Linked DNA regions of Homo sapiens: regions 1, 3 and 4 are each linked to region 2. Evidence: fine-mapped expression QTL. A gene starts in region 2. Each other region holds a variant in brackets. All regions are shown on one strand. Distances are from middle to middle. Region 1 overlaps LOC105377094 (a long non-coding RNA gene). Region 2 holds the start of CACNA1D (calcium voltage-gated channel subunit alpha1 D). Region 3 overlaps CACNA1D (calcium voltage-gated channel subunit alpha1 D). Region 4 holds the start of LOC124906242 (a long non-coding RNA gene).

Evidence for each region.
Region 1: its variant is fine-mapped to the expression of CACNA1D in whole blood (TOPMed, PIP 0.99).
Region 3: its variant is fine-mapped to the expression of CACNA1D in whole blood (TOPMed, PIP above 0.99).
Region 4: its variant is fine-mapped to the expression of CACNA1D in whole blood (TOPMed, PIP above 0.99).

Annotation. Positions count from the first base shown.
Region 1 is chr3:53,350,676-53,358,627 of GRCh38, forward strand. LOC105377094 (a long non-coding RNA gene) reads right to left here. Exons shown (of 3, transcript XR_940847.3): 3 at 95-204. Among named protein-coding and RNA genes, the nearest start is that of DCP1A, 7.1 kb to the left of the region's middle. RefSeq lists a silencer at 2,567-2,861. The variant T/C (reference allele first, on the strand shown) is at 4,630.
Region 2 is chr3:53,489,943-53,497,894 of GRCh38, forward strand. It overlaps CACNA1D (calcium voltage-gated channel subunit alpha1 D), which reads left to right and starts at 4,669. Exons shown (of 48, transcript NM_001128840.3): 1 at 4,669-5,291; 2 at 7,210-7,519. The coding sequence starts at 5,225. RefSeq lists enhancers at 4,118-4,617, 4,948-5,733, 5,734-6,518.
Region 3 is chr3:53,699,925-53,707,876 of GRCh38, forward strand. It overlaps CACNA1D (calcium voltage-gated channel subunit alpha1 D), which reads left to right. Exons shown (of 48, transcript NM_001128840.3): 9 at 2,717-2,886. Among named protein-coding and RNA genes, the nearest start is that of CHDH, 140 kb to the right of the region's middle. The variant C/A (reference allele first, on the strand shown) is at 3,915.
Region 4 is chr3:53,641,337-53,649,288 of GRCh38, forward strand. All of the region lies in intron 3 of CACNA1D (calcium voltage-gated channel subunit alpha1 D), which reads left to right. It overlaps LOC124906242 (a long non-coding RNA gene), which reads right to left and starts at 5,495. Exons shown (of 3, transcript XR_007095913.1): 1 at 5,380-5,495; 2 at 2,459-2,619; 3 at 1-2,312. The variant C/T (reference allele first, on the strand shown) is at 4,761.

The DNA of each region.
Region 1 (7,952 bases), 140 kb before region 2:
TTCATATATCATATGTACACAAAATGGCAGAGATTTTCTTTTAGGGAAGGGAAATTAGCATTATAATGATATGTTCATGATCTAAAGGCACCCAGGGTTTGCCAGTTCCCATTTGCGCTGGTTTTATGGTGTCTTATCTTCCTCTGGCATCTGGTCAGGGGTCAAGAAGCTCTGGCGCCATCTGGTTTCTTTAAGCAGCAGTGTCTATAGATAAAGGGACCAAAGAAAAACAATAAGAAAAAGGAACTTTCCCAGTTATTTTGTCAGGGCTGTCCTGGTTAACAAAAATGCTGAGATTACAGGCTTGAGCCACCGTGCCCAGCCCCCCTGTTTGTTAATGTAAAGAGAAATTTAGATTCTTTGCAGAATCATGTAAACATGTACAAATGTGGACAAAGACACAGATATCATTCATTCACTCTTAAGTCAGTATTTATTGAACTCCTAATTGTGAGCTGGTGGCCCCTTGGGAGCATCTCACTCTGTTTAAGACATTCCTGGCTCTGAGGGAAAAAAGAAAGTAGGACAGTGCAAGGAAACAGGGATGATGCTAGAGACATTTCTCTTTGAAATCCAGAGGACAGAGCCGCTAACTTAACTGGCTGGGAAAGTCTAGGAGGGCTTCCTGAAGGAGATGATGTTCAAATTGGTGTTCTAGGGATGACTGGGAGTTCAGGGGAAAAAAGTAAGGCCTCTGGTTCATTTCACAGCTCAGTGGTGAGGTAGAGAAGATGTCGTCACCCTCATTTGACAGATGATTTAATTGAGACCTGTGGGGAGAATTCACTGGCTCAAAATTCCACACTAGTCACAGAGGATCCAGTATTAGAATCTAGGGACTCCTATCTTCTACCCTGGGATCCTTTCCTACACGCCCCAGATGCCTTTCTTCCTTCCAGTGGCTGGAGGTAAGAGCCCTATTCCTCTCTACTTACCTTCAATCTGTTTTAAAAATCCGCACCCTAATTTTTAAAAATCTGCACTTTAATGTTTAAAAAACATACATTCATCTGGTACAAAATTCAAAAGGCACACCTGAAACTTAGTTTTTTTTCTTACATAGATTTCCTAAAATAATCGAAGACATTTCATTTTAATTTACTATTTTTGATTGAGCAGGGCTAGCCTATTAAAGAACACCAAGTTATTTTAGGGAATTTTCATATTTGGAATAGAAAATTACTCTGGGCCGGGTGCGGTGGCTCATGCCTATAATCCCAGAACTTTGGGAGGCTGAGGTGCGCGGATCACAAAGTCAGGAGATTGAGACCATCCTGGCTAACACAGTGAAACCCCGTCTCTACTAAAAATACAAAAAATTAGCCAGGCATGGTGGCGGGCGCTTGTAGTCCCAGCTACTCGGGAGGCTAAGGCAGGAGAATGGCGTGAACCCGGGAGGTGGAGCTTGCAGCAAGCTGAGATCGTGCCACTACACTCCAGCCTGGGCGACAGTGAGACTCTGTCTCAAAACAAACAAACAAACAAACAAAAAAAGAAAATCACTCCGAAATACATATTTGCCTGCCTCTAAACATGCTCTGATGCCCCATATAGCTCTTAGGACATATTAAAGATAATATGAATATTTTGGACTTGAAATTCATCTTCATTTATCGTGAGGCCTAATTTTGCCTTATATTTGTGAGTCAAACCTTAAGACCTTTCTTGTGTCTTTAGACAATAGACTCTGAGAGGGCAGAGATGGCATCTTAGTCTTATTAGGTCCCCAGTACCTAGCTAGCCCAGCTCCTAGCATAGAGTAGACTCTCAATAAATATTGGTGATTGAATGTCCTCTTGAAACCCAACTACTTCCAGGCCACACAAAACACTACTAGGAAGGAGGGGAGGAAGCTGAGTGACAGAGTTGGGAAGGAGGCTCTATTCTAGACACAATAACCTACAGTCACTTTGTAATCGCCCGACGTGTTCTTCCTGCCTGCTGCACAGACAAAACCAATTTACTGAGACCATGGTATTACAGTAGAGAAAGAGTTGTTTTTTTTTTTTTTGGAGATGGAGTCTCGCTCTGTTGCCCAGGCTGGAGTGCAGTGGCATGATCTCAGCTCACTGTAACCTCTGTCTCCCGGGTTCAGGCAATTCTTTTGCCTCAGCGTCCCAGGTAGCTGGGACTACAGGCATGTGCCACCACACCCAACTAATTTTTGTATTTTTAGTAGAGATGGGGTTTCACCATATTGGCCAGGCTGGTCTCAAACTCCTGACCTCGTGATCCACCCGCCTGGGCCTCCCAAAGTGTTGGGATTACAGGCATGAGCCACCACACCCAGCTGAGAAAGAATTTTATAAATGCAGAGCTAGCCAAATGGAAGGATTAGAGTTATTATTCAAATTAGTCTTCCTGAGAACTCAGAGGTTAGGGTTTTTATGGATAATTTGGTGGGTAGTGGGCTAGGGAATGCGTGCTACTGATTGGTTGGTGATGAAATCATAGGGGTGTGGAAAACTGTCCTAATGCACTGAGTCTGCCTCTGAGTGGGGGCCACAGGACTAGTTAAGTCATGAGTCAGGGTCCAGGTGGGGTCACTCAGTTGCCAGAATGCAAAGTCTGAAAAAATATCTCAAAAGACCAATCTTAGGGTCTACGATAGTGATGTTATTTATAGGAGCAATGGAGGAAGTTACAAATTTTGTGACCTCTGGCCACATGACTCCTGAGCAGTAAGGGATTATAGAAACTATGCCTTCATCTTAGCAGAATTCAGGCCCCTCCCCTAATCCTAATCTCATGGCCTTTAGTTAGTTTTACAAAGGCGGTTTCAGTCCCTCATCAAGGAGGGGGTTGGTTTTAGGGAGAGATTATTATCATGTCTGCTTCCAAGTTAAACTATAAACTAAATTCCTCTCATTGTTATCTTGGTCTGTGCCCAGAAATGAGCAAGAAGAGCCAGCCTGTGAGGCCAGAAGGAAGATAGGGTCAGCCATGCTAGACTTTTCAAAGTGTCAGAAACTTTGCAACAGTGGTTTCAACTTTTTTTTTTTTTTGAGACGGAGTCTCGCTGTGTCGCCCAGGCTGGAGTGTAGTGGCATGATCTCCACTCACTGCAAGCTCCGCCTCCCGGGTTCACGCCATTCTCCTGCCTCAGCCTCCTGAGTAGCTGGGACTACAGGCGCCCGCCACCACGCCTGGCTAATTTTTTGTATTTTTAGAAGAGACGGGGTTTCACCATGTTAGACAGGATGGTCTCGATCTCCTGACCTCGTGCTCTGCGCGCCTCGGCCTCCCAAAGTGTTGGGATTACAGGCGTGAGCCACCGCGCCCAGCCAGTTTCAACTTTTGAGGTGTGTTCCATGTATGTCAACTTGTGTGTGTGTGAAATTGGGTCTTGCTATATTTCCCAGGCTGGCCTCAAACTTCTGGGCTCAAGCATTCCTCCCACCTCAGCCTCCTGAGTAGCTGGGGGTACAGGTGCATACCACCATGCCTGGCCTATTTTTTTTTTTTTTTTTTTTTTTTGAGATGGAGTTTCACTCTTGTTGCCCAGGCTGGAGTGCAATGGCATGATCTCAGCTCACAGCAACCTCTGCCTCCCAGGTTCAAGTGATTCTCCTGCCTCAGCCTCCCGAGTAGCTGGGATTACAGGCATGCACCACCATGCCTAGCTAATTTTGTATTTTTAGTGGAGACGGGGTTTCTCTATGTTGGTCAGGCTGGTCTCGAACTCCTGACCTCAGGTGATCTGCCTGCCTTGGCCTCCCAAAGTGCTGGGATTACAGGCGTGAGCCACCATGTCCGACTTGGCCTATTTTTTAAAAAATTAAAAATAATTTTAAAAAATGAAAACCTAAAACCCAATCAATCCAATCCCTCCTCTCCCCCAGTTGGAGTGGCTTTGTGGTAAAAAATCAAACTTGCCACTTTACATCGTGGGATCTAAGGGAAAGGGCACTGGAATTCAAGTCGGGAAATCAGTCCTTTAGTTCCTAACCTACCAGCTGTGTAACTTTTTCAGTTAGTCGCAGGCTTTCCATTTCTCCAGTGTAAAATCCAAAGCCTTTAACGGGTCCAGGAGATACTGTTTGGTCTGCCCTCCTGCTGTCTTTCCATTTCCATTTTCTATGAATTGTCCTCTTAATTATTTCACACTAGCCCACTGGCCACCTTGCTGTTCTGTATATTACAAAAGAAAAAAATTACAACAAATTTAGTTTAAAGATCAAATTGGCTTTCATTTGTCATTCTTGAATTGGGTATATAAAATAGAATGAGTATTCCAATGAGCTGATCAGAGGAGGTTGGCTTTACAGGCAGAGAAGGGCTGAAGAAAGCTGAAACAGGAAACAAAAAGCAGATTGGTCACTTCAAAGTTAATTTCCTTATAGTGTTAGAACAGAGAAACTTCCTTATGCCAGCTCAGGTAAACTAGGGCCCTTCTGATTGGTTGCTGTAAATCTCCTGTTTTTGGAAAATGGGCCCTTTTCCGAGTTCAGTTGGATTATGTCACTTAGCACAAGTGACTCCATTATGGTTTTGTCTGGTCTGCTGGGGCCTAGTGCAGGAGGCTAGTCCAAAATAATGGCCTCCCATACACTTTGCTTAACAATGCCAAAGCAGTCTTATCTCAGGTCCTTTGTACTTGCTGTTTCCCTTTTCTGAAACATTCTTCTT[T/C]CTGTTATTTCTTAGATATCCTCATGACTCATTTCCTTCACTTTCTTCATAGCACTTATCTGCAAGTTGTAGTTATTTATGTGTGGTCTGTCTCATTCATTTGATGAAGGTAGGAATCATGTCTGTCTCTTTGACCATTACATTCCCAGTACCTGGCAAAATCAAGGCCTAACATACGTATCTCTTGAATTAATTGGAATGTTAGGATGCTCTCTCTTCTTCTGTTGCATAAATCTTACAGAAGGGATGGTGATTTCAACTCCACCTCTAACAAACCATTTGTTTTTCATGAGTGCTAATTAAATAATAATGCCTGATTTACTTGTATTAATATATTCTCATTCTGAGGCTTTATGCTTCCTGAAGCAAACATATTGTTTTTAGTGTAGCCCAGAACAATCTTCAGCACCTTTTCAATCTTACAAGTTTCTCCATTTCCATTCTCTTCTTCTCTCCCCGCATTTCCCCTCTTCCCTGCCCTCCTTTACCTCTCCCCCTCCCCACTCTTTCCCTTTCCTCTCTCCCTCTCTCTGATTTTTTTTTTTTTTTTTTTTGAGACATAGTCTTGCTCTGTCACCCAGGCTGGAGTGCAGTGGCCCTATCTCAGCTCACTGCAACCTCCGCCTCCCTGGTTCATGCCATTCTCCTGCCTCAGCCTCCCAAGTAGCTGGGACTACAGGTGCCCGCCACCACGCCTGGGAATTTTTTTGTATTTTTAGTAGAGACGGGGTTTCACTGTATTAGCCAGGATGGTCTCGATTGCCTGACCTCGTGATCCTCCCACCTCAGCTTCCCAAAGTTTTGGGATTACAGGCGTGAGCCACCGTGCACGGCCTCTCTCTCTGATTTTTAAAATTTATTCTGGAAGTATCCGCTTATTCCTGTTCGCCTTTTTGGGCCAGGAAACCAAAGCTAACTAATTTTCTCAGGGTCATATAATGATTCATCTGCTGAGTTAAGATTAGCATCTTCTAGCCTTGGCTTCCAGGTAGATCACGTATCTTGCTACCATGCTGCCTGGCAGGCTCTTAAATTACACTGGCTACACGTGAGTGAAACTTGTTATCCTTGTGCTGCTGTTTCACCACTGATATTTATTTTTCATGATTGATCCAAAAGATTGTGGACTTACTGTAAAATTCATTCCAGGTCCTTACCAGATATTTGGGACAGTAATGCTTTCTTTCGGTTTCTCAGAAAGGTCTCAGAACTTTGTATTTTAAAATGATACTTTATATTTTTAAAGGTGCTTGATGTTCTCTAGAATTATACTTCTGAAATGTGAACTAGTTTAGTCTGTCAGTTCTGGAGCAGAAATGCTTTCAATCAGAAAGGAAGAAATAGCTGTTCCATTTGGAGTAATGCACCTAGAATATAGGAAGGTAGGACTAGACAGCCTTTAGATCATCCCTTTATTACCAGGCAAGACTTTGTAACATAGTGTTCTTATGATGTTCTTAGGTAGAAAGTATTATGTTTTTTACTGTTACTTAACTCAGTGTAATGTTTCAAATAGCAATAGCACAGCAGTGGCATAAACAATAGCAATATAGTCAACGGATACACTGCTTATCCATGGAGCTCAAAGTACTTCCTAGGTATACCTATTCACAAGCTCTCAAAATAGATATTGGATGTACATAAATTGTTGCCCATTTGCAGATGAAGGAGTTCAGAGGTAAGAGGAGATTAGCTGACTTGACTGTGGCAGAGCTCTTTTGGGTTCACAACAATCCTTTGATCCTTCCCCATTGCATTGGGCACACAGCTAGGCTTCATTTCCCAAGCTCCTTTGCATTAGGCATGGCTCTATGACCCAATTCTGGTCAGCAGAATATTAGTGGAAAAGCTGTGTGCCATCTCCAGTCCCAGGTTTGAAGGAGCATGTTGTCTCTCCACACTTTCTTATTCCTTTTCTGTTGACTGGGTGCCGCAATGGTGAGACCATAAGGAATGGCAGAGCCAGGATTGGAAAGAGCTTGGACCTTGAATCACCATACTGAAGAGTGTTGCCTGATGACCAGACTATCCTTCTCAGACTGTTATGTGAATGAGAAACATAGCCTGTTGACTTTAAGAGATGATGAACTTTGGGGTCTCTTTGTTACCTCAGTGAAGCCTATCTCAGTTAATTACACCGCTCCAGATTGTTTAGAAAGTCAGCAATAAAACTTCAGCCTTCAGAAATAGAATTAAAATTAAGCACATGATTTACCAGAACACACTGCTTAGTGCTTTGACAATAAGTCAAGATTTTAAAAGAACTCCAGGCATAGCTCTGCATTTACAATCAGTTAGAGGCACAAATTTGCAGAGTCACAAAGTGGCTAAAGACCAAAAATGTTTTTGTCTATACCATTAGGCAATTGATTTTGCAATTGCATCATGAAGTAATCTGCTAAGCCAAAATGGGAGGTTGTCATTTAAAATGCACTTTTCCATGAGAGTTCCACAAATATGCTCAGAGTTCCTTTAATCCTGCCTTTCTTTTCCCCTCAGGCATACGAAAATACAAATATTTCTTAGACCAACAAAATAAGAAGAGTTTGATTAAAGGCATCTGTCCACTTTTTCAATTCTGAACACTGCAAGCTTCTTTGTTGTTTCTGCAGAAGTACCAACAGAACCTATAGACTCTTTCTGTTCCTGATGCTTTCTGTATCTTCCCAGTTTCAGTTCTAGGGTGCCTCTAATCTTATATTACTATTATTCATTCACAAATATTTATTTATCTGGCAAAATTAACGTAGTAATAATAATAATAATTCTTTTTAGAGATGGGGGTCTTGCTATGTTGCCCAGGCTGGAGTGCAGTGGCGATTCGCAGGTGTGATCATAGTGCACTGCAGCCTCCAACTCCTGGGCTCAAGTGATCCTCCTGCCTCAGACTCCCAAGTAGCTAGAAATACAGGTGTGTGCCACCATGCCTGGTTCATAATGATTTTTACATATGCATTTAATTCATTTAATAAGTTGTTTTTCTTTTTTTTTTTTTTTTTTTTTTGGAGATGGAGTCTCACTCTGTTGCTGAGGCTGGAGTGCAGTGGCACCGTGTTGGCTCACTGCAACCTCCGTCTCCTGGGTTCAAGCAATTCTCCTGCCTCAGCCTCCCGAGTAGGTGGGATTACAGGCACCCACCATCATGTCTGGCTAGTTTTTATATTTTTAGTAGAGACAGGGTTTCACCATTTTGGCCAGGCTGGTCTTGAACTCCTGACCTCAGGTGATCCACCCACCTCGGCCTCCCAAAGTGCTGGGATTACAGGCATGACTACTGCGCCCGGCCTCATTTAATAAGTTTTAGTTCCCTTGGATCTGCAATT
Region 2 (7,952 bases):
TATTTAGTGCCCGCTGTGAGCATAACACTTAGCAGCAGGGAGAGGGGGTTAAGGAGGTGATCCTTGCTTAAGGACCCACACGGTGGTTGGAGAGACAGGATTTATAGCCAAGAAGCAATCACACAAGACACAAGAATGTATGTCATCAAAGGGGAAGCCAGGTGCTGCAGGCCTTTAGGGAAGGGGAGGTGGGGGTGGGGGCACACGAGTGTCCATAGCAGCAGTAGCAATCAGAGAAGTCTTCTGGAGGAGGCAGAGACTTGACCGAGGCTTTTTCAATGGAGAGGGGTTAGTGAGAGGTCAGCAAGTCAACAAGGTAGGGATTCCTGGTCAGCGAATAAACAGGAGCCAAAGCAGAGAGTCAGAAATGAGCACAGCATGTTCACAGTCTAATGAGACTGCTGACCACAGTTTAAAGTGAATGGTGCGAGATGATAAGGTTGAACGCTAGTCAGAGGAGTTTAGGTTGAATGTGGAAGGAAGGAGGAAGAAAACATTTTTTGGTCAGGGAAGTGACATGGTGTGTTTTGAACAAGATGGATTATTTGTGGGAGGAAAAATGGAGAATGGGCATCTTGTGCATGACCTGGGGTGTGAGATGGTGAGGTTCTGGACTGGGCCATCAGCAAGGTTTTTTGAAATGCAGTGCACGCAGGTAATCATGTCTGGCATGCCAGCTCAGTGCGTTCAAGTGGGAGTGCTTTATAAATAAGGTCATGGAGATTAAGACCCCACAATAGTGTGTTAGCAACATAATTGGGTTGTAGCACATGTAGCTGATTTAGAGCTGAAATCTTTTGTTTTAGCCTTTCCTCATGTCTTGTTGGCTCAGCTACTAAGTAATTGTGTGTGGTTTTGGGCGAGCTACTTAACTCCTCAGTGTCTTGGTTTTGTTGTCTGTAAAATGAGTTTTGTTTTTTTTTTTTTTTAGAGTTTTGCTCCGTTGCCCAAGCTGGAGTGCAGTGGCACAATCTCTGCTCACTGCAACCTCCACCTCCCAGGTTGAAGTGATTCTTCTGCCTCAGCCACCCACGTAGCTGGGACTTAAGGCGCACGCCACCATCCCCAGCTAATTTTTGTAATTTTAGTAGAGATGGGGTTTCACCATGTTGGCCAGGCTGGTCTCAAATTCATGGACTCAAGCCCGCCTTGGCCTTCCAAAGTGCTGGGATTATAGGCATGAGCCACTGAGCCTGGCCAAAATGAGGGTTTTATAGTACCTCGTAGGCTTGTTACGAGAATTAAATGAGTTAGTACATATAAAGTGCCTACCCTAGAACCTGGCACACAGGAAGCCTTTAAAAGATCTTATTATTTATTTATTCAGTAGTTTGCATTATCATGGGAATATAAATATTTAAATTACCCAATGGGCCAACGCATCTAGAGCTGTGCTGAATCAAGGCCCTCAAAAAAAAAAAATGCTTGCTGGAGACATCGCCAAGATGAGACTCATTCAGAAACTGGGATGGAATGTCAAAAACTCCAATTCAAGGCTGAGCAGTGGCTCATGCCCGTAATCCCAGCACGCTGGGAGGCTGAGGCAGAACTGCTTGAAGCCAGGGCTTGCAGCTTACAGTGAACTATGATCACACCACTGCACTCCAATCTGGGCAACATAGTGAGACCCTGTTTCTAAAAATAATTATTTAAAAAAAAAACCCCAAACCCTCCTGCAATACCATAAACTTGTTAAGATCTAACGCACAAAACCTGGAGACCGAAACCACAATTTAATCATGTCACTTTTGAGCTAAAACAACTTCACTGGCTCTCACTGCCAAGAAATTGAATCTGGTCTTCTTAGCCAGCCAGCCTTCCTCCACAGATTTGGGTTGGCCTTTCCAGCCTCCTCCTCCTCTAGCCCAGGGGGTCTTTGCCTCAGCCACACTGTGCTCCTGCTCATTTTTAAACACACCCACCTTGCACTTCAGTCTCCCCTGTGCCTTTGCTCTTACCCCCAAAGCTCATTCCTCATACATCATTTATGCCCTGTAAAAGTAGTCACCTGTTTTTAATAGACTTTATTTTTTTTAAGAGCAGTTTTAGGTTTACAGAAAAATTTTGCAGCAAGGACAGAATTCCCATATATTCTCTCCCCCAACAGTTTCTCCTATTAACATCTTGCATTAGTGAGCTACACTATATACACAGTTATAACACTGGTACACCCCAGTGTTATAATTGATGAACCAATATTGTGGTACTACTATTAACAAAAGTCTATAGTTTGCATTAGGGTTTATGCTTTGTGGTGTACAGTCCAACGGGTTTTTGACAAACGCATAATGTCCTACGTCCATCATGGCAGTATCATAAAGAATAGCTTCACTGCCCTAGAATTCCCTGTATGCCACCTATTCATCCCTCTTTCTCCCGGTCAGTTTTTAAGAATCAGTTCAAATGCCCTCTCTTCTGTGAAAACATCTCAGTTCCCTCAGTTACAATTAATCTGTCTGATGCTTGTATAGCGCTTTTTCATACTTGTTATAGCTGCTATGTTTGCATGGTATGAAAGAAGTATACACGGCCGGGCGCGCGGTGGCTCACGGCTGTAATCCCAGCACTTTGGGAGGCCGAGGCAGGTGTATCACCTGAGGTCAGGAGTTTGAGACCAGCCTGGCCAACACGGTGAAACCCCGTCTCTACTAAAAATACAAAAATTACCTGAGGGTGGTGGCGCGCGCCTGTAGTCCCACCTATTCAGGAGGCTGAGGCAGGAGAATCTCTCTTGAACTCAACAGGCAGAGGTTACAGTGAGCTGAAACTGCATCACTGCATTCCAGCCTGGACAACAGAGTGAGCAAGACTCCGTCTCAAAAAAAAAAAAAGTATACAAACTTTTCTTCTGTCATTAGGTTGTCCTTGAGGAAGGAACTGTGCCATAGATTTGTCCTGACATCTAGACCAGACCCTTATTCTTAACCGGTGCCTTATGAATGCTGGCTGCACTGAACTGAACAATGAGCAAATATGGTTCGGCTCAGTCATCCACTAGATACAGTATTTTTCCCTCTAGACAGGAGCTGCTGTTTGCAAATCTCCCCCATTCCAAATCTGAGCCAGCAAAGGTATCATAAAACAAACTTGCTCAGGGAATTTTGTAGAAAAGGCCTCAAGAGGCAAGGCTTTAGACCAGGAGTTCTGAAAGTGACATGTGTACTTGTGAATTTCATACATGCTCCTTGGATGGGCTAGTTTCTTTGGAGGGAACCGTCTTCTATTCCCTTCAGATTTTGGATCAGAAGCAGCCATAGGAGAGGTGGCCCAGGCCAGCTTTATATTGTTACTAGACCGTAGGGCGATTTCTCGCCTCTCCAGTCTCCAAAAACAAAGCACAAAAAAGGACAAGAGCCTGGTTGTTTTCATCCTCACGGACCAGACACCCCCTCAGGAAGGCCTCTGGAGAGTCTTCTGTCTGGTCCCCAGTCTCTCTGCCCAGGTGCCCCCCAACAATTGAGGATGACTAGTGTGTTCTCTTTGGGTAAGGAGCACCTTCCCATAAACACTTATTTTTCTTAATTCACGCTGAGCTTTTACTTTATTTTCGCTTTAAAGTCACTGTTCTGAAACGTTCTAAAACGCCGTAGGAACATGCAGATAGGAACAAAAGCAAATAAATCGAATCCTGTGAAGTAACAAAGCAGACGCCCTTCTCCTAACAGGCAGCACAAAGCTAAATGAAAAATATCAGTCATCCACTAGATAAAGTATTTTCCCCTTTAGACAGGAGCTGCCGTTTGCAAATCTCCCCCACCCTAAATCCAAGCCAGCGAAGGTATCAAAAAATAAACTACTCCCTTCAGCTCCCAGACTGGAGGCAACAGTTTCAGCAGCACCGTCTATTTCCTTGAACAACACGAGCGGTTTGAAAGACCTTGGCTTTGACTTCCCTGTACCTGCCTCCAAACACACGTGGGGGCGGGGTGGGGTGGGGGGAGATATTGCCCCCCATCCCCGTTGCCTTCCGCGACGCCAGGCCAGGCGCAGGGCAGGGGAGAAGATGGGGGGCGCCCTGGATTCGCGGTTCCAGCTGCAGGCAGTTACCTGGGGTAGTGAGTGCTCTCTACAGACCCGGGCTACCCCAACCCCCCCGATTCCAGAAAGGGCCGGAGAAAAGCAGGGGGCGCCTGCCCCGCTCCGGAGCAGCCAGGGAGCCCGGCCGAGCCTTGACGAGGATGAGCTCGGAGACCGCAGCAGCTACCGCCCGCTAGCACCTGAGCTCCCAGGGGGCGGGGCCTCCTCCAGGTGTGCGCAGAGGAGGCCGGCGCGGAGTCGGGGCCGGCGCGGGAGCCCGAGCTGTCCCCCAGCCCAGAAATGCGCGGGGAGGAGCGGTTCATCCGCACCCCAGCGCCGCGGGAGACACTGGCGCCGCCTGCCTCCTCCGGGTCCCGGGGGGAGAGCGCACCGTGCGGCGCGGAGGGGGTTAACCGGGCAGCCCGCCGCTGGAGCGCGCTTAACCCTTTGGAGCCCGCAGGTCAGCCGGGCCAGGCTGGGGTGGCGGCACCCCGAGTCCCACGCGACGGCCACCCCGAGCGCGCAAGTGGTGCCGGGCAGAACCGCGCGCCGGGCTGCAGACCCGCCGGGGCGCGGCGCGGCGCGGGCCGTGGGCGGCTCGGGGCGGGCGGAGGGCGGGGGACGGCGGCGGGCGCGCAGCGTCGCCAGGGCGAAGCCGGCGTGCGGCGCGGCGCGGCGGGCGCGGAGCGAGCGGGCGGGCGAGCGCCTCCGTCCCCGGATGTGAGCTCCGGCTGCCCGCGGTCCCGAGCCAGCGGCGGCGCGGGCGGCGGCGGCGGGCACCGGGCACCGCGGCGGGCGGGCAGACGGGCGGGCATGGGGGGAGCGCCGAGCGGCCCCGGCGGCCGGGCCGGCATCACCGCGGCGTCTCTCCGCTAGAGGAGGGGACAAGCCAGTTCTCCTTTGCAGCAAAAAATTACATGTATATATTATTAAGATAATATATACATTGGATTTTATTTTTTTAAAAAGTTTATTTTGCTCCATTTTTGAAAAAGAGAGAGCTTGGGTGGCGAGCGGTTTTTTTTTTAAATCAATTATCCTTATTTTCTGTTATTTGTCCCCGTCCCTCCCCACCCCCCTGCTGAAGCGAGAATAAGGGCAGGGACCGCGGCTCCTACCTCTTGGTGATCCCCTTCCCCATTCCGCCCCCGCCTCAACGCCCAGCACAGTGCCCTGCACACAGTAGTCGCTCAATAAATGTTCGTGGATGATGATGATGATGATGATGAAAAAAATGCAGCATCAACGGCAGCAGCAAGCGGACCACGCGAACGGTGAGCAGCCAGAGCCCGGGCACCCGCTGCCAAATCCGATCCTGTCATGGTCCTCCAGCCCCCTCCCCCTTCCCCGCGGCGCTGGATGGGTTGAGGGGGTTGGAGAGGGTGCTGCCAGCTCGGTGTCGTCTACACAGAGAGGGGACATGCGTGACAGCCACTCCGCGCTCCCCTCCAGGCCCTGAATGTCAGAGTTAATTCTGCATTTGTGGGGTGGGGGCGGCCGTGGAGTGTGTGGAGCGCGGTGCAGCCGGAGGGGCGGCGAGTCGGGGTGATTCGGGTTCAGTGTCCTCGGGCTCAACTTTCCTTCAACGCCCCCGAGCGATGGCAGGAGGGCCGCAAGTCTTCAGCCGGAGCCCCCTTGCCAGCCTCTTCTCGCCTTCCACTCCTCCCCCGCCCCCTCGTTGACTAGGAAGAAGGTCCCTGGTGGCATCCGGAAAATTCTAGGATTGCCCGGTTTCGCCCTCCGCGCCGGTGGGTGAAGCACACCCATCCCCTCGCGGGGGAGGCCCGGCCTCGGTATCGGGGAAAGGGGTTCGGGTGGAGCGTGCGTTCCCGCTCCCGTCGCCGGCTGTGCACACGTCGGTAACCTAGCAATGCCCGGGGAGCCGCTGCCGCTGTGGGGCTCCCCTCCCCAGCTCTGGCCCGGGCACCACGTGCAGCTTCCACGCCGGCCGGGGCTGGGTCGAGGGAGGATGGAGCAGCTCCTGGCCAGCCCTCCCCTTTGGAGACCGCCAGTGCCCCCCAACCCCTGTCGGCTGGAAGCCTTTCCGGGTGAGCGCTCCCCTAGGGAGAAGCTTGACATGACTCGACTCGTCCCCGCTCCGATTGCCCGCCGCTCGCCCGCTTTGCCCTCTTCTCAGGCTTTCAGACCCGTGCTTGCTTTGACTCTTTACTTAGCAATAATTGGCTTTGCAAACGCCCATCTCTCTACCTTGCTGTCACCTCTCTCACTTCTGCTTCAGTGAGGAGACTGTGGCGGAAGGCGGCAGGTGCCTGGGAGATCTGCCTGGGAGATGGCCTGACCCAAAGCTGGCGGGGGCTTCGCATAGGGAGCCTCCTTGAGTTTCTGCCTTGTGTGCACCTGGATACCAACCTACACGGAGATAATTCCCTCTTAGGCCTGGAGGCCCCTGGCATAATCCAGTCAGTCTATCCTAGGTGTAGGGGTGCAGGCTGACTGCCTTGTCTGTCTCTCTGGATGCTGGCTTGGCTGATGCTGCTGCAATTTAAAATGCAAAAAAGCCCTAAAGATGTTTTCTGTTTTCGGAAGCCTGTGGAGGAAATGAGTCCCAAGCATCATGAATTTTCATTTGCAGGAAGTGTCAGTGCATAATCTAGATATTTGTTATGGGGTTTTTGGTATTGCCTGGGTGCCTATGGAAGATTTTTTTTCGGTACTGAAAAAAATGCATTTGTGGCTGTGGAAAGATGTTGGAGTAACACTCTGAAAATGATTAAGACTATTGAATTATTGGTACTGCCTTTTTTTTTCCCCTTGGTGATGGTGGTAGTTATGTTAGAGAAAAGCTGTTGTATGTATCTGTTACTCATTAGAGATAGATGGGTTTTACAAATCAGAGATGCGGAGTAAATGTGGGAATGACCTCAGTTTTGTCAGAAGAAATGCACTAAAAGACCCTTTGTGAAGACATGATGTGAAGGAGTACTAACCCCACTGGGTGTGATGCAGCGGTGATCCTGTGTGATTGACACTGAGACCAGAGCTCGTGGACTTTTCTTGACTCTCCAGCTGACTAAAGCCCAGCTTGTGAAAAATAGCACATGAGATTCAAAATGGAAACATAGGAGTGAATGATTCCCCTGTTATTGATGGGAGACAACCTTTGATTTTTTTCTCCTACCCACTGGATCCTCATTTAAAAAAAAAAATCTTTGTTTTTCTCCTTCTCCCCAGAGGCAAACTATGCAAGAGGCACCAGACTTCCTCTTTCTGGTGAAGGACCAACTTCTCAGCCGAATAGCTCCAAGCAAACTGTCCTGTCTTGGCAAGCTGCAATCGATGCTGCTAGACAGGCCAAGGCTGCCCAAACTATGAGCACCTCTGCACCCCCACCTGTAGGATCTCTCTCCCAAAGAAAACGTCAGCAATACGCCAAGAGCAAAAAACAGGGTAACTCGTCCAACAGCCGACCTGCCCGCGCCCTTTTCTGTTTATCACTCAATAACCCCATCCGAAGAGCCTGCATTAGTATAGTGGAATGGAAGTATCCTTTTTTTGGGGGAAGTCTTTCTCATTTTCTCTTTTACCATCTGTTTTTTAAAAGGATTTGCTTTCTGAAGTGACACAAAGCTGTAGCAGTCTGGAATGCGAGTAACAGAAGTTGTATATAAGGGGTTTCATTGTATATACCTTCCTGTCTCTTCGGGTTGCAGAGGGGTGGCTGTACGGGTATATTTAGCCCACTGTCTGGATGTGTGTATAGTAGTAGTAGTAGGGGGAGGGAGTGACAGCCTGAAACTTCACAGGGGCAGATAATTAAAATGTGAAACCAACCTTTGGTTATTGGACATTAGATGGTTAGTTTTAAATTCAGTGTTGTCTTTGGGCAATAGCATGCATTGAACCTATTGCAAACAAGGTATACAGATTAGAAAAAAAGACTGTATAAGACTCTGTTTGAAGGGAATACATTTTTG
Region 3 (7,952 bases), 210 kb after region 2:
TAGAAATGGGATTTTTATATTTGTAATGTTAAAAAGGCATAAAATATTACAAAAGAAAATTAGGAAGATAGTAAAAGAGTTACCCTGAGAAGCTTAAGGACGTTCATTTTATAATGTATGTAATTATACATTATAAAATGTATATAATTATATAATTTAAAAATAAAATATAATTATATAATTATAATACATTATAAAATGTATATAATGTATGTAATTATGCATTATAAAATGAATGTCCTTAAGCTTCTCAGGGTAACTCTTTTACTATCTTCATAATTTTTTTCCCAAGAACCCATATATGATATGGACCCAAAGTAAGAATACCTTGTTTGTATGTAACCATCTGAATTTAGTATTCTAAGTTCGGAATCAAAACATGCAAACAGATTTGTACTAGGATACTTTTCTGGTGAATAATAGAACTGAAGGTCCACTTTTCTTTGAGATGTATTTAAGAAAACAGATTATATAATTCATTTTCCTGCAGATACATGACATGCCAAGCCCTCTTACTGTTGCTCAGGGATGTGATTCTGGATTGAGTTGTGATTTTTTCAGAGTTCAGAGAATCATTTGGTGAATTTACCTAGAGCTGAGTTATGTATTTCCCATGTGTCAGGAAACCCCGGAGGCCTAGAAACCCCAAACCATTCTCAGGGTGTGGTACATGTGAATGGCGAGACACTGGAGTCCTTACTTCTTTGAGACAGCAGGTGTTCTTTGGGCTGGGAGGTCAGAGCACGTGTCTGGGCTCAGATCGGCTCCTGCTCACTCTCTAGATCCACAAAGCCTGGCCTCCTTCCTTATTCACAGGGGGTGGAGTGGAGACTGACAGCCCTAACAGGACCAAGGATAGGTTCCAGGGAGTCTGGAAAGTGGGGTGATTTAGAAGCTATGAGAGGGATCCTTTCTTTTTCTTTTCTTTTTTTTTTCCTTTCTTTCTTTCTTTTTTATTTTTATTTTTATTTTTTTTGAGATGGAGTCTTGCTCCGTTGCCCAGGCTGGAGTGCAATGGTGCAATCTCAGCCCGCCGCAACCTCTGTCTGAGTGGGATTCTTTCTAATTGTGGGCAGAGGGTGGCACTTGGTGAGGATTCCAGTTTCTTATCTGAAGTATTAGTGTCACTGGGTGTGCAAGCATCTGTTCAGCCCCTCGACAGCCTAGAGTTAAGAGACGGGTGTGAATATGGGGTTAGTTTTGTTGTTGTTGTTATTATTATTATTATTATTTTGGAGACAGCGTCTTGCTCTGTTGCCCAGGCTGGAATGCAGTGGCATGAACTTGGCTCACTGCAACCTCTGCCTCCCAGGTTCAAGCAATTCTCTTGCCTCAGCCTCCTGAGTAACTGGGACTGCACCACCATGCCCAGCTAATTCTTTTTATTTTAGTAGAGATGGGGTTTCACCATGTTGACCAGGCTGGTCTCAAACTCCTGACCTCATGATCCACCCACCTTGGCTTCCCAAAGTGCTGGGATTACAGGCGTGAGCCACCGTGCCTGGCTGGGGTTAGCTTTATGAAAGCAGGTCACTTCCCCATTCGTGGGTTGGGTTGGGTTGAGTTGGGTTGGGTTGGCTTATCGAGGTAGGACCCTGAAAGAGACATGCTGGCTTTGACTCGGAACAAAGGCAAGAAGGCAGACAGAAGTAACCTGTGTCAGAATCTCAAGGTCTGTGTGCAGAAACTGCATTGCTGTAACCTCACCTGCTTCCTTGGCAGCTTTTTACTAAGTCTCTAACTCACATATCTTGGCTCCTATAACAACTCACGGTTGGAGATGCAGATGGTTCCTCATATATAAAAATTGGGTAATCGTCCACCTGACTCTCAGGCTTGCCTGAGTATGTGGGGTTTTGTATATATGCATAGTCAGAGGCTTGCACACATGGTGGAAAGTAGCATAAACACCCCACAATTGGGAACATTTACCTGTCTGCCAGATCTTTTCCAGGGCAGGTGTTCCTATAAATGGGCAGAAAATCATATGCCTCTTCCCCTCCTGCAGGGAAGACTTTTGGGGAAGACCATGACAAGTAGCAGGGGTTAAGAAAAACAGTAATGCTTCATCAGTGCTCGAGTTCCCATCTGGGAAGGGAGAACTGGGTTGTGGAGGGGGTGGGGACTGCCCTGACTCCATGCACTGCTCTGGCCCGAACCTGCAGGTGATGGGTAGAGGAGCCTAGTGTGGGCACCAGCAAGGACTGCTGCCTGCTCAGAGCTCTTGGTTTGGACAAAAGGGGTAGCACACAATATTAATGCAAAGTTTGTCCAAAAGCATTGAAGAAGTTCTAAACTTGGTACTCTTTGACCACAGCTTGGCCCATTTGGGTCCCTCCTCTTTGAGGAGGCTCTGGGGAAAGTGGGGCGTCTCTGAGTTCAGGCCCCTTGTTGGGGGGTGTCAGAGGCCTGCCATGACAGCACATGGTGTTTTGGGCCTAGGCCCCTTGAGATCGCTGTCATCGAGGGGAGTTCATTTTCTAAGAAATGATGCATGTGTGTTGGTGTGGGCTCTGCGACTCTGACCCCCATAGTCTTGCTTTGGAAGACACTGTCTTCTGTCCTGTCCAAGTGTGTGGCTCCATTGCTGTGCTCATGTGACTATACTCAGTGCTGTGTGTCCTGCCCACAAGACTGTTGTGCAGTAGGGCAGTGGCTCAGGATGCAGGTCCCCAAGGATGTCCTGATATGTGCTTGTCCTCTTTGCCTCCTTCAGAGAATTCTCAAAGGAAAGAGAGAAGGCAAAAGCACGGGGAGATTTCCAGAAGCTCCGGGAGAAGCAGCAGCTGGAGGAGGATCTAAAGGGCTACTTGGATTGGATCACCCAAGCTGAGGACATCGATCCGGAGAATGAGGAAGAAGGAGGAGAGGAAGGCAAACGAAATAGTATGTAGCGCCTTTCCTGCCCCTGGCTAGACAGACCCAGTGTGCGGTTCAGACGCCTAGCAGTAGGCCTTCCTCGACTCTGACCCAGGCTGTGAGTGGGACAGCCTCCTCCCAGCCATCTGGTCCCTTCTGCCTGCACACATCACGGAGAGAACAGGTGCATTGGTGCTGACTCTGGATTTCTGCCTGAGGTTTGGGGTTTAGAGTTGTATTTGGTAAGGTGGCTTTATAGCCAAGGAAGGTCAAACGGACCCACTGTTGGCCTGGGAAATTCAGTAAGCGCATTTCTGTGCGGGCACAGGGGTGATGAGACACATATTCTTGTACCACAGGAGAAGAAGCTGTGGTTTCCCTCACCTCAGAGTGAACAGTGTTATTGGACAAGAATTTGAAGTGCAGGGTTCCTCTTGACTCTTACTCTTAGGCCACCTGACATGGCTCCTACATGTGCTATTCATATGAAGCCATATGCTTAGCCCATCAGGGGCTGGGAGGAAACCGGCTCACCATTCTAGGCAGGTGTTAAGGGGCACGTGAGTCAGTGACAGCTGCTTTGCTGTCACCCATCGACACCCCACACTGTGACACTAAGCACCCTAGAGCACCTTCTGCAGGAGGCAAGGCCTGAGAACTCAGTCCATCACTGACATTAATTGCCATTGTCAACCACGGTGTCTCTTTCACTGCATACTTTTCCCACAGATGCGCTCTTATTCTCTCTGGGGCCCTTTGTGCCTCGGGTCAGAGTGGAAACTGGAATCCAGCAATGCATTTGACTGAGATGTCTGTGACTTGCTTCAAATCTAGAAGAGTTGGATAGGAAGGACCAAGAACGTACTTCAAGTGCACATGTCCATTGAGAGGCCTGGGGACCCGAGGCCGGCCCTACGTTGTAGAAGATGGCCGAGCAAGTCCCTGCTTGAGCAGAGCGCCTTGGATGTTTTGCTCTCAGCAAGGCCTGTTGCTGGGTACAGGGGAAACCCAGAGCTGGAGAGGATGTGGAGTGCTGCCTCCTAGGGAGAGACAGG[C/A]CTGTCACACTAAATGCAGCCCTGGGGAGCAGAGCTGCAGGGCACACATAGAGGGCAGGCACCGCCGACGAGGGATCGAGGACAGGGCTGGAGGGAGCATTTGGCCTGGGCCCTGAAGGATGGATGGATTGCAGGTGTGACCATTCAGTGTCAGAAGAAGCACCCTGACCCAGGGGACTAGCGTGAGGGAGGCGTGGAGGTGGACAAAGGCCAGGTTTCAGGGAGGAAGCAGTGGGCCCTTCAGCTGGAGCACAGAGGGTATGAAGGTCGGGGTGAGCTGCCATAGGAAGGGTGGGTGAGGTGCAATTGTGCCTCTTCTGGAGGTTGTGGAGTGTGTAAGTGGGGGCTGAGAGACCCCTGGTGGAGAGGCTTCTTGACTGAGAGGGCCCTTACCTTTCTTCAAGCCTGGGCTCTGTGCCTCCATGGGGAGGGAGTGTGTTCCGTGATCTCAGATGCCCTGGCTGGTGCAAACCAGTGTGCTGACTGGGAGTGGGCAGGGTCAGGCCTCTCTTCTCTCCCTCCCTGCTTCTTGCCAGGCTCAGGAAGGGGCCAGGACTTTAGCACCTGAGGATCAGAAGACTGAGGGAGGGTTTCTAGAGCTAACTGTTTGCTGAATGCAAGTTCAGAGTTTATAAATAGACATTCATGTGAGTCTCAGACTCAGCGATGTGCCTATGAAGTGATCAGATGTAAGAGTGTCTGCCTGTCCTCTGCACAGCTCTCCCCTTGGCAGTTGAGCCAACGTGAACCCCATGGCTTTCGTGGAGCTTCTGCACCTGCAGTATGGCAACAGGCCATGTAGGTGCAGCTTGGAGATGCCTGCACCGCTCTTTTCCCCTTCACTTGCAAACTGTAACTCAGATGCTGACCTGCCCCATCTCCCCTAAACCCAACATGTTATTTGTAAACGAGAGGAGGTATGGCCCCTTTTTCTCAGCAGAGTGTCTTTCTTTGCTAGTTTAGCTGTGTCCCCCAGGGAGCTGAGTGAGGCCTTCTTACAGGCCAGTGGCCTTTCCTCTGTTTATTTCTCCTCCTCTAGAAGTAGACAAGGTTTCGTGTTCTAGTGTTGCTAACATTAGTCGTGGTAGAGTTGTTTATAGGGCCTATGATTTGAGGATTAAGGGTTTTCATTGGATTTAAGGTGATATCTTGAGGGTTAACCATTTTATCTCAGCCCAGCATTTCCTATGACCTATCACTGTAAAAACCTGATGATGACAGAAATCAATGACTCTGCCTTTCAGAGAACTTGCCATGAGGGGAAGATGGAGAAGGAGTGGCTTAGTGTGAGAAGCTGATCCCATTGTTAAGGCCCAGCACTCTGCTGTGTGAGCCCAGGAGGGCGCGATGATTCTGGCTGGTGGGAGTGGGCAGGCTGGGGCGATGTGAGGAAGGCTCCGTGGGAGGAGCAGCCCTGGGCGGCAGAGGTTGGGGGTGGGGGCTTTTTCAAGCTGGGGAAATGGCACAAACAAGGTGTGCGAAGTGACAAATATTCAGGGCCCTTAAGTGCATTGCTCAGTAATATAATCTAGGAAAGAAACAAAACCTGTTTAAAAGCCTTGTAGATCTTCAGAATTCACTCTCACTGGGGCTCCCAAGCCCATAAAGCTGCAATGTGTCTTGGGAACATCAGCAGTATTGTTTCTGCTATGCACCGTGATGTGTGACTCAAAATGATTAACTAGCTTAACGTTTGATCCAGAATAGCAAATATTTCTGTGGTGCGCCCTTGTTCTTTATGGAGCTCGTTTTGCCAGGTGCTGGGGTTTCCTGTGGAGTGAGGCTCACAGTGCTTCCCGAGTCATCAGATTTCCAGAGCCTTGCTGATGAGGGTTTTAAATAAAGACAGAAATCTTGGCTGTGGAGGCCATGATGGGATTTAGCTGACTTGAGAGCACCAAGTCTCCTCCTCCTCTGAGGAGAGAACCTCTCTGATCACAGACCTCAGCAGCCCAGACCCTCTGGAGGAGACAGCACTGTTGAGGTTTCCCTGGGGCCTCCTGTGGCTGCCAGCCATTTTCTTCCTGTCACAGCCAGAAAACCACACAAGGAGAGGGTTTCAGTGAGGCCCACATGGTCCTCCTCACCAAATAAACAGTCCTGGATTCACCACATGCACATGCCAGGTCTGGGGCTGTCTCTGTGCATCTGATTAGCAGGCAGTAGAAATGTGGGTGTTGCCAGTGTTACGGTGTCTGCATCCTCCCTGGGGGTGTGAGATCACCCCACGTGCCTTCCACTCCAACCCTGCTCCTCTGTTACCTCTTGAGAGGAGGATGGCGCAGGGCCCGGGCTCCTGACTTTGTCCATAATGGCTAAGGATGCTAATTCAACTGAGAGCCCTTTTCAGCTGGGTCCTGGATGTGAGTTGAGCAGTTTCCTCCCAGACCTTGAGGATTGAAGTGACAGTGTGAGAAGAAATGCTTCCTGATAGCCGAGCCTCAGCCTAGATGAGCAGAAGTGGGTGTAGGAAGTCATTAATAACAGCAGATGTCTGTGAGCTCACAGGAGGCAAAGGCTTGGGCTGGAGGGCATCTTGATGCCCCTTCTCCGGATGTGGCTGCAATGGAGTTTTGTGACTTGGAATTTGGACTTTAGTATTAGGCAAATTACTCAACCTCTCTGGACCCCACTTTCCTTGTCTGCAAGAAGGGGATAAAGATATATCTCCCCATGGGGCTGTTGTGACAATTGAACGTTCTGTGACTGCTAGGAGTAGTCATAGTTGTAGTATGTGCTGCTGCTGTTTTCATCAGACACCAGTAAAAGTTGACCTCAACAGAATTTTAGGGGTATAAATTTAGGGGGTACAAATACCGTTCTGTGACATGGACATATTACATAGCGGTGAAGTCTGGGCTTTTAGTGTAACCATCACCCGAAAAGTGTACATTATACCCAGTAAGTAATTTCTCATCCCTCATGCCTCTTCCACCCTCCCACCCTTCTGTGTCTCCAATGCCTATTATTCCATCCACACCCTATGTCCATGTGTACACATTATTTAGCTTCTGCTTATCAGTGAGAATATGCAGTATTTGACTTTCCTAAACATAATATTTTTGAAGGTTCTCCTAGACCGCTAACCAGCCTCAGGGTGGGGCCTCCCTCTTAGGACCATTGCCCTGTGCTTTTCTGTTCAGAAACTATAAAGTTCTGAAGTATTGATGGAAAACAAATCTGTTAACTAGGTCACTTTCGAGATAGGGCAGCACAGCTTTCAGGCTCTTGAAGTCCATTTCTAGTTTGGCGGTGCTTGCTGTCAGGGAACAGATGTCAAATCAAGTACTTGGAGATGCGCTCACATTATCTTTTCTCTCTGATCTGCTAAATGTCACTGCATGCGTCTGCGATGCCCAACACTGGCTGTACGTTATAATCACCTGGGGAGCTTGGATGCTTCTTGATGCCATACTCCACCCTCTAAGACTCTTGATTAATCTTGGGGTGGGAGCCAGGGGTGGCTCTTTTTCATTAAGGTTCCCTGGGGATTCTAATGTGAAGCTAGGGTTCAGAACTCCTGAGTCCAGGATGCTATCAGTGGCTGAATATCACACTGTTCCAGGCATTCACTTGAAAGAAGAGGAGAGGCAATCAGGCCTCTAACTGAGCTGTCTGGTGACTGGTGACAGGTAGCTCCAGCTTTGTGCATTCATAGAATATTTAAAATGTCAATTTCATAAATTTGCTATTAGAAAGCTGGTGTTACACAATTAACTGAATGGACAAAATTCCCTTTGAAGTGAGTTCCTGAGCATTTGGTAAATTTTCAAGGATAATTTATTTAACTTTTTGCTGAGCTTCAAGTTTCTTAAGAAACCCTGCCAAATCTCAAAGTGATTTTTTTAGACATATGCAGCTGCTTCTGAGTTAACAATGGAGTTTTGCTAGGACCATTAAAATCTGGAAGCCTAAAATTCTATTTTAAACTCTTCTCATTGTCAGTGATTAGTCTTAAAAAAAAAAAGCATTAAAAATGAAATCATTTTAAAGGGAGCTCATTCTAAAATTCTGGCCAGAAAAGCAGGGCAATTTTAT
Region 4 (7,952 bases), 150 kb after region 2:
GAGACTCCTAGTACTCTGCTTGAGCTTGGATTCTTGTCTGCTGTCCTGAAATGTTTATATATTATCTGCCATCCTCCTTGAGGATATGAACAGTGTTGTAGCCATCTTTGAATCCCCAGTGCTCAGGATCATGCCTGGTATGGAGCAGATAACCAGTGAGTGGTGTTGAATTGAGCTGAAATAGGGTCCCTGAACTGCCAGGCGAGATGGGATGGAAGTGGGCAGTGCCTTAGAGGTGAAGCTGGGTGCGGAAGTGGGAGGCTGCCAAGCATAGAATGTACCCTCTGCCAAGGGAGCTCAGAGTCCATGTCCCTGGGATGCACGGGATGGGAAGGAAGGCAAGTCTGAAGCGTCAAGTTTACAAGAGTGTGCACAGCACAGGAAACCAGTTGAAATTGAAGATGGCAACAGAGAACGGAAAAGATTGAAGGAGGGAATTTGGAAAGCTGAGCCTAGATGAATTCCCAGAGGCAGTGACTTATAGGGCTCGGAGGCCCTGTGTATAGGGAACCACCGCTGAACCTGTGGGTCAGAGGGAGTCATCAAAGATGTTGTCTCTTGAGAAATGAGGAGCTACTGAAGATTCTCTCTCTCAGATACCTCAACATTTTAGAGACATGGAGTGATCCTACAGCCCATTGTATTAATATTTAGGTGGGACTCCTTCATTTGCAGGTGACAAAAACTGAACCCAAACTAGCTTAATTTGGTGGCTTTTATAACTGAAAAGCCCAAATGGGGAGGGGAGGGGAGAGAAGGGAATTTTTGACTTCAGGCTCAACTTGATCCAGGGATGCATACAGTGGCCTCAGGGCCAGGTGCCTGCTTCTGAGTTTCGCTGGCTGGCTGGCTGACTGGCACACTTTCTCTTCATTTTTTGGCTTGGCTTCCCTTGGTGGGTGTTAGCTCTTCATCTCTATGTCCCCCTGGCAACTCTAGGCTTGTGGTCTCTCAGGGCTGAATCCAGCCAACAAAAGAACTTCTTACCTAGTTACCCCAGGGAAAGCTCCCAGACTTGCTCTCTTCGGACCCGGTTGGTGTGGGTTGGAGCTTATGCCTATCCCCGAACCAATAACCTTGGCTGCATGCCAACTCTTATTGCCCCTGGGATGAGAGCAGGAATGGAGCAGTTCCTGGGGGAAGGTCAGGGTGCTGTTACCCTTGGAGTTTTGCTGGGTGGCAAGGCCATCATTACTGCCCCATCCAGGCTAACTGTTGTAGTCTTGGCAGCAAAGCAGAAGCTGCCTTTGCTCTGCCGGTGAGGAGGAGAGCTCCCTGCCAGCCTCTGCCGCCCCAGGCATGCTGCTGCCCTCTTCCCACAGACCGCATGTCCTTGAAGCTGGGCTCCGTAGAGTGGTCCACCAGGTCACCCTGCTGGCCACCTCCATTTGTCATCCCTGGGCACATTCTAGACAGCATCTTGGGCCAGGGCCTTGCCCCACCTGGGTGATTGTGGGGTCACTGAACTGTCGTGGGATCTCAGGAGAAACCTCTTCAGAGAGTCTGCATCCACAGGGAGAAGTGTATTCACACTTCCCACAGGCTGGGGAGCTGTCTCACCTATCCTTAGTCAGGGCGAGCCTTCCATTGTGAGGTGCTTTATAGTTTGCACAGCTCTATCCAACTTGTTACTTAATCTGGCTTTTACCATAACACTGGTGGGCAAGGCAAAGCAAGAATGATTGTCCCTGTTTTATGGATGAAAGAACTGGGAATCAGGAGGGGTAAATGTCTCAAACGGGGCAACACAGCTGTCGAGACTAGCATTAGACTTGGGGGACACAAATGTCACATAAAATGTGTACTTTTAAACCGAAGGTGAAGAAAGATGAGGGCAAACAGACTACTGTAGCCAGTTTCTTCATGTAAATGTGGTGTTAAATTACCCATTGTTGTTCCTCTAAGTGCATACTTCATTAATACCTGCAGGGGAAAAAATGACCTCTATTTACAGCCAAGCATCTCTGAGCCGACGCCTGCCTGCCCACCAGCCTCCTGTGGTTTACCCACCAAAATTTTACTAGAGGTTGAATCGGCTTGTAGAAGCTGTGTGATAGCGCTGCGGCTCCCCTGGGTCACCTCCTGAAACGTGTAGGGTCGTGAGTGGGAGGGTGTCTCAGCAAGCCCAGCCTGAATGTGCACGATGGCCTCAATCGACCCAGCCACTTGAAAAAGCAGCCGCTGCTCTCGGTTCTTGCTGTTCTTGCTTGGTCAGCTCTTCCCTGGGGTCTCTGCGCCCTCACAGAGCCTCCCTGTGAAGCCTGTCCTTGGAGACTTTGCTCACCAGGTCATAGACAATTGTTGTTTTCCAACTGGAAGAGATCATCTGATTTAGTCTGTTCATTTCACACATGAGAAACGAAGACCAAACCCCGTACCGTGGCACCTGGGGCCCTTTGTGTCTGCCCTCCACTGTGTCCCTGCAGCCTGTCCCTTCCCTTCCCACCTGTCCTCATACCTTGTGCTTCAGCCATGTGGACTGCTCTTCGCCCTGAACAGCTTGCCTTCGTGCAGGCTCCTCTTCTGGATGGAACACCCTGCCTGGAGCAGGGAGGGCCATGATGAGGGAGCAGGTGGCTGTGCTGAGCCTTTCCCTGACATGCACTCATGGATGTTTTCCTGGAACAGAGCAAAACCAGGGGGCGCTGGTATCATAGAACTTCTTAGTGGGAAGGGACATTTAATAATAGTTGGTCAAAACCTCTCATTTTGCCCATTTATTTATTCATTTATAAATGCGGAATATCTATTTTTGTGACAGGCCTTGGGAATGCAATGATGCATGAAATAGAAATGATCTCTGGCTTTAAAGGAATGATAATTTATTAGGGGAGACAAATATTAAAGAGGCAATTTTTAAAAATTGACAAATAGCTACATAATTAGGGTGTACAACATGATGTTTTGATATATGCATACACTGCGGAATGGCTAAATTAAACTAATTAACATATCTATTACCTCACATGCTTATTTTTTTGTGGTGAGAAAATTTAAAATGCAGTCTTAGCAATTTTCAAGTATGCAATACATTGTTGTAACTATAGCCACTATGTTGTACAATAGATCTCCTGAACTTACTCTTTCTAGCTTTTGTATACTTTGAAATTTTTTATATGTTGATCAACATCTCCCCAATCTTCCTGACCCCCACCTCTGGTAATCATCATTCTTCTCTCTGCTTCTGTGCGTTCAGTGTTTTTAGACTCCTCATATAAGTGAGATCATGCAGTATTTGCCTTTCTGTGCCTGGCTTATTTAGCTTAGCATAGTGTCCTCTAGGTTCACCCATGTTATTGCAAATGACAGGATTTCCTTCTTTTTAAAGGCTAAATAGTATTTCATTGTGTATCTATACCACATTTTCTTTACCCATTCATCCATTGATGAACATGGAGGTTAATTCCATGTCTTAGCTATTGTGAATAATGTTATGAAGAACATGGGCGTGGCAGACATTTCTTTGACATACTGATTTCATTTCCTTTGTATATACATTCCCAGAAGTGGGATCACTGCATTATATGGTAGTTCCACTCTTAATTTTTTGAGGACCCTCTGTAACTGTTTTCCATAGTGGCAGTACTAATTTACACTCCTATCAACAGTGTACAAAGCTTCCCTCTTCTCCATATCTTTGCCAACACTTATCACTTGTCTTTTTGACAATAGCCATTCCAATGAATGTGAGGTGATGGCTCATTGTGGTTTTAATTTATATTTCCTTGATGATTAGTGATGTTGAGCACTTTTTCATGTATCTTTTGGCTATTTGTATGTCTTCTTTTGAGAAATGTCCGTTCAGGTCCTTTGCCCATTTTAAAGTCAGATTGTTTTCTTGCTATTGAGTTGTTTGAGTTCCTTATCTATTTTTGATATTAACCCTTTATCAGATGAATGGTTTAAAAATATTTTCTCCCATTTCATAGGTTGTCTCTTTATTCTGGTGGTTTTCCCTTTGTTGTGTGTAAGCGTTTTAGTTAGATGCCATCCCATATGTTTATTTTGGCTTATGTTGCCTGTGCTTACAGACTCATATCTCAAAAATCTTTGCCCTGTCTAATGTCAAGAAGCTTTTACTCTGTTTTTCTGTAGTACTTTCACTGTTTTAGGTCTTAATGTTTAAGTCTTTGATCCATTTTGAGCTGATTTTTGTATATGGGGTGAGAGAAGGGTCTGATTTCATTCCTCTGCATGTGGATGTCCAGTTTTACCGTACCCCTTATTGAAGAGACTGTCCTTTCCCCACTCTGTATTCTTGGCACCTCTGTCAAAGATCAGTTGACCATAAATGCCTGGATTTATTTCTTGGCTTTCTGTTAAAGAGGTAATTTTTTAAAATTTAAATTTCTATTGTGAATTACGGCTGTGGAAAAGTATAATGGGCTTTGACAGCATGTAACAGCAGGCTCTAATTTTGTCTGGGAGGTCAGTAAAGGTTTTGCTGAGAAAGTGTCATTTAAGCTGAGCCTTGAAGGGCAAGCAGAGTGTAGTCTGATGAGAAAGAGGGTTGGGGAGACTGTTTTAGAAAGAAGGGAACAGGATGTGGAATGGTTCCACTGTGGCCCAGGGCCACAGCATGAATCAGTGGCTGAGTTGGGACTAGCAGAAATCAGATCTATGGCTCCAAGCCCTGTGTTCCTTGCATTCAACCCCGCTGGGTGCGTTTTTGGCCCTGTATCACAGAGCTCTATGCTTATTCATCTAAAGAGGGAAGTTCATGTCCATGGGGCAGGCACCCTTGGTGGATAAAGCAGGGA[C/T]GGCAAAGACATGGAGGTGGGAAGGTGGCTGGCATGTGTGGGAGGGAGCAGGTTGGCCCATGACTTGGAGTGAAGCACTCTGACAGAGGAGAGGTGGGAAAGTTGGAAGAGGAATCTAGGCAAGGATGAAAGGATGAGATCCTTAACCAAGAAGCTGCAGGTTGGGATAGCAGGGGAGGCCAGGTGAGATATTGAGATCAGCTGTTGTCCTAGCAGTTTGACTCTTTATTTCAGGCTTGTTCTAAAAAGGGTTTATGGTAACTTAGATACATACATATGTATCCTGTTTTTTGTTTTTGTTTTTTAAATACATATGCTAGGATCATAAAACCTCATGCTGTAATAGCCTCTACATGTCTAGATCTATAGCTTTATTCCTTTCGGTTTTTTTCTTCTCTGCTTTCTAGTAGCACCTATGAGTGCCTTACATATGTCTGATGCTACAGTTAAAGACACAAAGAGAGGGCCCCTTTCAATAGAGAATCCAGGACTGCAGGGCACAGAAGGAATGGAAGGTGTCAGTGGGAGAGGGGGACTTCTGGCAGAGTATAAGCCAGAAAGCCTTCCCAAAGCCTTGGGGCACATGGGTGGAAGAGCAAAACAGAGAAGTGACTCTTACCTGGCTGCATCAAGCCTCTGTTCACCTTTTGACAGCAGCTTGGGAGCTCTGTGAGGACAGGGTTCTGGCTTTGCTGAGAAGGATGCAGGTGCTCGGGGATAGATGGATAGACAGATGGACAAGTATTCATGCCACAGCACTAATAAGAGGATTCTTAAAATAGGAAAGGAAAGTACCAAGTCTAATGAAGGATTTTGGCATCTCCCACCTCCTGCTAGTTGACAGTTTCTGTTTCTCAAGATTCTGTACAGCATTAACTGGTTTGGAGATTATTAACTAGTTTAGAGACTACTGATTTAGAGCCTCTCCTGTTGGTGAAATTTCACTGTTTAAAGAAGACACATCAGGTTTTAGAATTAGATTTCAGCCTTTGTTTCTCTAGTGGCTTGAGTTCTCGTGGGCGGGGTAGGGGGAGGGAGTGGGGGGACATCCGTCCATATACAGGGTAGTTTCTGGACGTTGTTTTCTAAAGGAAGGTTTGACTGGCCCTGCCTACTCAGGATCTCCTGCCAGGGAGAAGAAATCCCTGCTGGTGGGTGACTGAGTGCCACAGGTGTGACTCTGCCTGGCACACAGAGGGGGATGAGATGCAAGAATCATTTACTCTTTCCCTGTACCTGGGGAAGGGCTGTTAAGGTACAGCTCCTGCTCAGGCCTTTTATACCAGGGACGCCTCATTTCATGTATGGTTCTAGAGGGTTCCTGCTGGCCCCTTCTTCTGCCATCCCAGTCTTTCATCCTTGACAGTGCTTCTTCCTCTGTGCTTCCATCAGTCGTGGCCACAGACCTCAGTGTCCTCTATGTGTCACCTCTCACCTAGCTGTTTTGGCTGGGCCCACAGTCCCACCTTGCCTGTTAGGAACCTGACTTTCTTGTTGGCTTCCTTTTCAAATTGTTAATTCAACATTCTTTTCTCAAATGAACAATCCTTTTGTAAGGCGAATAATTATCCCACTTCTCCTGAACGACGTTTTGCAAGATTTAAAAATAATACTTCATTTGTTGAATGTGGAGGGATACCTGTTTCATAGGATTCCTTTTTAGTGGCAGGATTGAGGACCGGGATGACATTGGCTTCTAGACAAACTGGTCTGCCTGCTCTCCAGGCTGTGATTGTTCAGTTGGCATCATGGTAGAATCTCTGTAATAAAGAATTGCATTAAAGGAAGTTTGTATTTCTTATGAAGAATCCCATCAAATAATTCACTAAGGATTTTGGAAAGAGAAACCAAATTCTTTAAAAAGCAGGGAGAGGGCAAAGGAGAAGGAAAAAGAACGTTAAACAGTTCATTTATACTAATGGCCCTTGTGTTATTGTGGCAAAATTTCTTCTAAATAAAAGTCAGAGAGGAAAAACAAGCTTTGTTTGGGAGGTGTACTGTCTGTTCTCTGCCTTGTTTTTCTGCTCTGAAGTATAGTGTGCTGTCTTGACGTAGGTATGTAACTGCTATGAATATTGATGGCAGCAAAAGCTTTTTTTTTTCTCTCTGGCCTAGTAAATAAAGCAGCAAGGATAAAAAGGGATGAATTGTAAAATCAGTGTGCTGTTTTTAGCTTCTCTGGTTCCCTTAGAACTCTTAAGTCTCAAACATATTGACAATCTGCCTTTGGTGGTCAGGGTCTGATGTGAGCACTGTGGGTTGGCATTTTCAGGGATTTTTGCCTCTGGTTGAAGTAACAGAGTTCCTTTTTCTTTGAGCTTTCAGAGTTAATGTTATGGCTTCATTGAGGCCTTCCTGTATCTTTCCCTCTATCCAGTGGCAATGCTGGTCCCTGCTCCTCAGAATACCGCAGTGGCCTGAGTGTGTGATCGTTCCTCCAGCAGCCACGCCTCGCATGCCTCCCGAGCAAGCACTCCTCTGGGGGATATGGCAGGGAATGGGGCAACGGGGAATCTGGACAGTAAGCAAGGAAGGGCATCCTCGTAGCTCTGAGCGTGGCATTTCATGTAGCTGTATGAAGGGCATGGGGGAAGAAGGCATGGGGGCATGGGATGAGCCTGGCTAAGAACAGGACTGGTCTGAAGTCTAGAGGGGGCATGAGTATAGAGGTTGGAGATGAGCTAGGCTTTCTAAATTAAATTATAAACACACTGATGCTGGCTAACTCTCAAAACACACACACACACACACACACACACACACACAATTCGTTCACTAGACTGTTATAATGGTGTTCTGAGGAGCAAAGGGAGCTTTGGAGGGCAAGTGTTTAGAAATGACAGGAACCACAACAGCCCTGTCCTTGGAAGGAAGCCCTGTTATATGACCAGTGAAGAGTGGAGAATGGGGGCAAAGACTGGGATGCATGGCCATGGCTGCATGGTGGTCAAGAGGGAGGATACCTGTGGCACGACAAAGGGATGTTCTGCCTGGCACGGCCGGTGACAGAGGGGAAGCGATTCTGGCAGCAGACAGCCGGAGCCCAGGGGCAGCACAGGCAAGGCTTCCATTTAAATGCACAAGGGTGTTGGGGATACTGCAAGCAAACATTTAATAGGTGACGGTTCCTCAAAGGGTCAGGCTTATGGGAATCATCCTAAAATTTGTGTTTTTAAAAATGTTTCTGAATAT